Linked DNA regions of Homo sapiens. The gene in region 2 interacts genetically with the main gene of each other region. Each region holds a gene or a part of one and is shown on either strand. Other genes may lie near its edges.

Region 1 (3,500 bases), on a different chromosome or scaffold from region 2:
GGTTAAAAACTTTCTACCTAACTCTAAGGTGTCTCCCTTGAGTCCATCATTTTCCTCCCCAACTCCAGGAAATACTGTCCTATCCTCAACCTGTGTCTGTAATCTGCTTGCTTGCTTTTGTATACAATTTTATGCATTATTCCTTTAAAAATGTATACACACATACACATGTATATTTATTTACTTGTTTTATTTATTCATTTATTTTGAGACCGAATTATGAGACGGGTTTTGCCATATTATCCAGGCTGGTCTCGAACTCCTAGCCTCCGCCTCCCCAAGTGCTGGAATTATAGGTGTGAGCCACCGCAACTGGCCGATTTACTTGTTTTTAATTTATTGAAATATGCAATGTGATTATTCTGGGCTTTTCTTTGTACTTTTCACTTACTATGAGATCCCTAATATCCATCCATATTGTTGCGCATGACTGCCGGCCATTCATTCTGGCTGCTGCCTGATATTTCAGAGCGTGACCATCTCTTTCCTGCTAAGCACGATTTCAGTGGTTGCTAGCTTTGCTCTCGTGAACAGCATGGCTTGGACGTTCTTATCCCTGTCTCCTGGTATCGGGGAACCTGCCCCGATATTCACATAGATTCTTTTCTATTTTTCCTAAGCGTCGGCCAGCTTGAGAAATAAAGGGACAGAGTACAAAAGAGAAAAATTGTAAAGCTGGGCGTCCGGGGGAGACATCACATGTCAGTAGGTTCCGTGATGCCCCACAAGCTGCAAAAACCAGCAAGTTTTTATTAGGGAGTTTCAAAAGGGGAGGGAGTGTGAGAATAGGTGTGGGTCACAGACATCAAGTACTTTACAAGGTAATAGAATATCACAGGGCAAGTGGAGGCAGGGAGAGATCACAGGATCACAGGACCGGGGCAAAATTAAAATTGCTAATGAAGTTTTGGGCACCATTGTCATTGATAACATCTTATCAGGAGACAGGGTTTTGAGATCAACCGGTCTGGCCAAAATTTATTAGGCAGGAATTTCCTCTTCCTAATAAGCCTGGGAGAGCTATGGGAGACTGGAGTCTATCTCATCTCTGCAGCGTCGACCATAAGAGACGACCACGCCCAGGGGGGCCAGTTTAGAGACCTAACCCCAGGTGCGCATTCTCTTTCTCAGGGATGTTCCATGCTGAGAAAAAGAATTCAGCGATATTTCTCCCATTTGCTTTTGAAAGAAGAGAAATATGGCTCTGTTCTGCCCGGCTCACTGGCGGTCAGAGTTTAAGGTTATCTCTCTTATTCCCTGAACAATTGCTGTTATCCTGTTCTTTTTTAAGGTGCCCACATTTCATATTGCTCAAACACACATGCTGTACAATTTGTGCAGTTAATGCAATTATCACACGGTCCTGAGGCGACATACATCCTCCTCAGCTGACAGGATTAAGAGATTAAAGTAAAGACAGGCATAGGAAAGCACAAGGGTATTGATTGGGGAAGTGATAAGTGTCCATGAAATCTTTACAATTTATGTTTACAGATTGCAGTAAAGACAGGCATAAGAAATTACAAAAGTATTAATTTGGGGAACTAATAAATGTCCATGAAATCTTCACAATCCACGTTCTTCTGCCATGGCTTCAGCCAGTTCCTCCGTTTGGGGTCCCTGACTTCCCGCAACATCCCGGGGCACACATACAGGAGTTTCTCTTGGGCAACCAAAGGTAGAAGTGGAAGTGCTGGGTCATGGTTATATGAACCTCCCCTCCTCTTACAGCTGGGGAAACTGAGGCTCAAAGAAGGCAGAAAATTGTGCCTTGGTCCATGTGAATGGCAACGTTGTCCCAACTTGGAACAGCAAGTGGACAAGGAACCAAACATGAGGCTTAGTGAGGAGAGAAGATTAGCTCAAGTTTTCCCCTATGTTGTGGAGGGTTGGATTTGCAAGTGTCTCCTGAGCATCAGCTCTGTGGCAGGTACTGGGGCTGGGGCTGGAGATACAGAAATTGATCAACCTCAGGCCCTGCCCTGGAGGAGTCCTTGGTCTTTGGAGGGGCTGGGTAATGGGAGAGAGGGAGTGCAGAGAGAGAGGGAGACCCCAAAGCAAAACAGCAGTGACTGTGTGGTGGGTTAGTTGTGCTGCTAATGGGGAGAGGACAGTGGGGGATGCTCAACCAAGGCCGATGGAGGAAGGGGCAATCAGAGAAGGCTTCCTGGAGAAGGTGGCACCTGAGCCTAAAACAGAATAACGAGCTGGAATGCGTATTAGGGAACTTCAGTTAGGCAGTGGGAGCTCCAAGCTGGATATGTGTGGTGGAGAAGGCATTCCAGGCAGGAGGAATAGCACAAAGAAAGGCCTGAAAGGGAGGTTCATAAGTTCCTAATGATGGCGCAGATCTTAGCTTCAGAATTAGGGCATGAGGCCAGGTGCAATGGCTCATGCCTGTAATCCCAACACTTTGGGAAGCCAAGGCAGGCCAATCATTTGAGCTCAGGAATTCGAGACCAGCCTGAGCAACATGGCAAAATCCTGTCTCTACAAAAAATAGCCAGGCATGGTGGTGGGTGCCTGTAATCTCAACTACTCGGAGGCTGAGGTGGGAGGATCGCTTGAGCCTGGGAGGCGGAGGTTGCAGTGAGCCATGATTGCGCCACTGAACTTCAGCTGGGGCGACAGAGTGAGACTCAGAAAAACAAACAAACAAACAAAAAACAAAAATCAGTAAAGAATTGGGGGATGGGAGGACAGGATCATTTCACAAACTGTGGCTCATCACACTTTTATGTGACTCCTGCACTGCTGGCTTTTATTTATGTAGATACTTAATGAATTTTTGACTCCCCCCTCACTCTGCCCTTGGCATGGGGGCTTCTCTCCTGCAGCTGGTGGTCTTCGAACTGGAAAACTTCCAGGGCCGTCGAGCAGAATTCTCGGGGGAGTGCTCAAATCTGGCAGACCGTGGCTTCGACCGTGTGCGCAGCATCATTGTCTCCGCGGGACCGTGAGTACTGGGCGGCGGAGGGGCACACTCTCTGCCACAGTAAAATGACCACACAACAGTAGCTGCCATTTCTCCAGCATCTGCTCTGTGCCTGCGGCCGTTCGTACTCCTGGCACATACATTATGTCCAATCCTCATATCAAACTGAAGAGGGAGGAATTGTTCTCAATCTCATTTTACGGATGAGGAAACTGAGGCTCGGAGAGGTGATCCAATTAGCATAAGATCACACTGGCAGTAAGCCATGGTTCTGGGCTCTGGAGAAATGCTGCTTCTACTATAGCAAAAACTCTAGCCCGGCCGGGCGCGGTGGCTCACGCCTGTAATCCCAGCACTTTGGGAGGCCGAGGCGGGTGGATCACGAGGTCAGGAGATCGAGACCATCCTGGCTAACAAGGTGAAACCCCGTCTCTACTAAAAATACAAAAAATTAGCCGGGCGTGGTGGCGGGCGCCTGTAGTCCCAGCTACTCGGGAGGCTGAGGCAGGAGAATGGCGTGAACCCGGGAAGCGGAGCTTGCAGTGAGCCGAGATTGCGCCACTGC
Region 2 (3,500 bases):
GGTGGTTTGCTGTATGGCAAGGAATGCAGATGCCGCGGCCCAAGACGCCCCCTCCCCCCCACCCAGGAGAGAGGAGCCTGGTATGGCAGGGGCCCGCTGGGGAAGGGGCGGGCATGGGCCTCTGAAGAGGAGGGGGGAAGCCTGAGGTAACTCCAGCGAGGGATGCAGAGACGGGCCACAGGAGCTCACCTTGGCCCGGGGGCGTGAGGCTCACTGCCTGGGAGAGGGCAGCCAGCACCGACTGCTCTGCCAGCCCAAGGCGCAGCCGTCCGCTCAGGGACCTGGGGAGAGAGCAGGCCAGGGAAGGGGGCTTGTCTGCACCTCCCCAATCTTGCCTCCTCCCTTCTCTGATCTCCTCGACCTTGATGTATGTAGACCCTCTCCTCAAAAACCAGAAGAATCTTCAGAGCCTGGAAGGGACCCCAGATATCACACAGCCCCATGTGACAGATGAGGAAACTGAGCCAGGCAGTAATGATCCTGCCCACTAGCATAGACTGGGGAGGGGCACAAGTAGGTGCACCAGCACCTCCCATCTCAGCTGCCCTGAGGGGTTGGCGAGGCTTGAGGAGGATGAGTCAGGGAGAGAACTGAGCCTGGCGCCCGCCCTGGTGACTGTAATGGTCAGGACCCCAGCATGGTCCTTGCTTTGAGCCAGTGGCAGGAGACAAGTGGCTTAGTTTGCCTCCCCATGTCTCCATTTCCCCTTCTATAAACTGGAGGTGAGGGTAACAAGACCAGTCTCACAGAGTTGCTGGTAGGAACTGATGAGGTAAGGCACGGGGCACAGGGCAGGGCTCCCAAGAAATGCTCCATGATGTGAGCCCTCAATGGATTTGCTCTCACTGTCATGGCAAACAAACCCTGGCTTCCTGCTGCAGGGCCCGCGCCCAAGCCGAGGCAGACCTCACCAATCAATCACAGCATGCTTCACCCACAGGGGCCCAGGGGCCTTCTCTAGACAGCACTACCAAGGGACAGAAGCTGGCCTGTGAAAGGAAATGGTGTCCCTTCCCACTCTTTAGGGGCTGGGCCTCCTGCTCATGCTTTTCTCATCCAAGGATGGTCAGGGCATTTGTGATGATTCCAGCTGCCAGTCCCTCCCTCCTTTCACCTCCGAGCCTGCAGTCCCCCTCTGTAGCCTCACAGGCCCACACGCTTACCTAGCGATGAACCGGGCTTCTGAGTGGCGGCAGGCCACAAAGAGGCCTTTGATGATGTCTATCTTCTTGGCTGTGGACTGGAGAGTCAGGGGAAGAGCCGTCAGTGCCTGGTGAAGGCAGGGACCACACCTCCACCCCACCAGCCGTGCTGCTGCCCTGCATTTTGGAATACCTGCCCTCCTTCCCTCACCCCATCCCCATGTCCCAGCTCCCATGGCCGCCCACTCTTAGGGCAGTAAGAACGAGCTAGCTCTCCTCCTTGCCTCCCTCTCCCTTTATCCAGGAAGTATTTACTGAGTCCTGTCATGTGGCAGCCATGGCATTAGGTCTGCTAGACTCTGAAGAGGAGACTCCCCTAGGATTGGGTGCAGGAAGGAGGAGAGGAAGCTGTGCACCCCATGAGAAGGACTGATGCGACCCAGCTGATGGTCTACCCAGAAGCCTTCCTGACACACGCGTGGCCTCAGGTCCCCAAGATGTCTGGGGTCCGGGATGAGCGGCCCGCCCCACTCACAGCACTGCCAGTGAGCCTGGCGATGTCGCGGAACTTGCTGAAGACCCCGGAGGCAGTGAGCGGAGGTGGTGGCAGCATGAGCCTCTGGGTGCTGCGGCTGTTCTCGGCCACCAGCCCCACGTCGCCTTTCTCGGCTGCCTCAGCCCGGACGGACTCCAGCTGCCGACCTTCAGGGGAGAGCGCGGGTGGGGGTGTCGAGGGTGACAGTTGTGGCTGCGTGTCTCCCTTCTCTCGCGGCCTGGATGAATTTTCTCCAGCTGTGTGTGCTTGTGGCGAGTCCCTGCACCTCCCTGTGTCTAACGCTCACCCACTTGGTAGAAATGGCTTGGGGAACGTGCCCCCAGCCACGCTGGCTGTAGGAAGTCAGCAAACATGCACGTGGAGCCAGGAAAGCGGTGGATGAACGAGCATGACCACACTCAGGGGAGACATCTGGGCCGGTGTCATCAGGGCGCGGATGGGATTTAAAGCCACAGGCGGGACAAGGTCACTAGGGAAGTGAGTGTGGACAGAGCAGAGAAGGCCAAGGGACCCTTTCCTCTGGCGGGTCATGAACATCTCTGGCAGTGACCAAAGACCCTTCGGCTTGTTTTGGAGCCACCAGCTTACACACGTGGGATGTGCTCTGGCCCCACTTACTGTCCAGAGCTGGGTCCCATGGGCGCCTGGGTGTAAGAGCTGGGGAGATGGAGCCTCAAGTCACGGTGACAGCTGTGACAAGCAGCTCTCAACCTATCAGAACCAACACACCCTTGTCACCAGATACTGTGTGTCACCTCTTTTCTGGTCTGAAATAAAATGTGGAGATAACATAACCTGCCTACACCTATCGAGATAACGCCCTAACCCTAACACAGAAAAGAATGAAAGGGAAAGCAATCCGTAATGAACGAACAAGTGCGCGTTTCAGTCCACAGATGCTCAGCCGCGGCACAGAGCACATGAAGGTGGGCCTCGCGCCTGAAGCGAAACTGCCACAAATGGGAGAGCCGACAGTGTGAGCCTCACCAATGGGATGTTATCGAATCACACATCAAAGGGGACGGGATTCTCCAAAGTGGCCAACAACTCACAACAAACCCGGGACTTGGACAGCCACGGGGGCCACAAGGCGGCACGGAGAGCAGTGTGAGTGTGAACACGACCCATCAAGGGTGGAGGCATGAGACAGTGGAAGAGGCCCCAGCTGCCATGGATTGTTGGGCAGGAAAGCCAGCATCTGCAACTTCTTTTGTGAGAAAAACAGATCCTTCTTTGTCCAAGCCAATGTAGTTGGGTTTTCTGTTACCTGCAGCTCAGAGTATTCTTAACCGACCCCGTGTGTGCTGGGTCTGGTATGACGTCAGTGCTCCCGAAACACATCTTGAGTGAATGAGTGAGAAAATCTTGAGTCTCATCTCCTCTGGCTCCCATAAGCCCGTAACTCTTTCCTGATCCAAGTCAACCTTTCTCAGTCCCTCTGTCCTCTCATGAAAGCCTGAAACCCCTGCCTTCCCTAAATGTTGGTGCCCATGGCCCTAAGCCAGCTCCAGTGCTCCCAGCACATCCTCTCCCCAGGCGGATGAGAACCCACCAGTGGGTGGTCATCCCTCCTACACTGACCAGCCCGAACCCTGGGCTCTGAGCCAGACCTGGTGAGCCTCAGACCCGTTTCCAAACTTCCTGGATGGCCCTGGGGGCCCACAGATAGAGGTTGCTCATGCCTGCCCCACGCTGGGGTGATTAATGCCCCCTGCAGGTGCCTGCCCCTCACCAGGGTCCCAAGCTGCCGACGGCTTTGTCATCCATCCAGTCACCCAGGGAGATCCTGGAGGCATTCCTCC

Evidence for each region. A genetic interaction does not mean that the proteins touch.
Region 1: changes in LIG1 (region 2) and CRYBB1 together harm fitness more than expected from each alone (negative genetic interaction), as found in Homo sapiens cells (one large-scale study listed by BioGRID).

Annotation. Positions count from the first base shown.
Region 1 is NC_000022.11:26,611,528-26,615,027, reverse strand, and holds part of CRYBB1 (beta-crystallin B1), read left to right. Parts: intron 1-2,837; coding exon 2,838-2,956; intron 2,957-3,500. UniProt on the Homo sapiens protein: Crystallins are the dominant structural components of the vertebrate eye lens.
Region 2 is NC_000019.10:48,135,845-48,139,344, forward strand, and holds part of LIG1 (DNA ligase 1), read right to left. Parts: intron 1,845-3,500; coding exon 1,678-1,844; intron 1,241-1,677; coding exon 1,164-1,240; intron 282-1,163; coding exon 190-281; intron 1-189.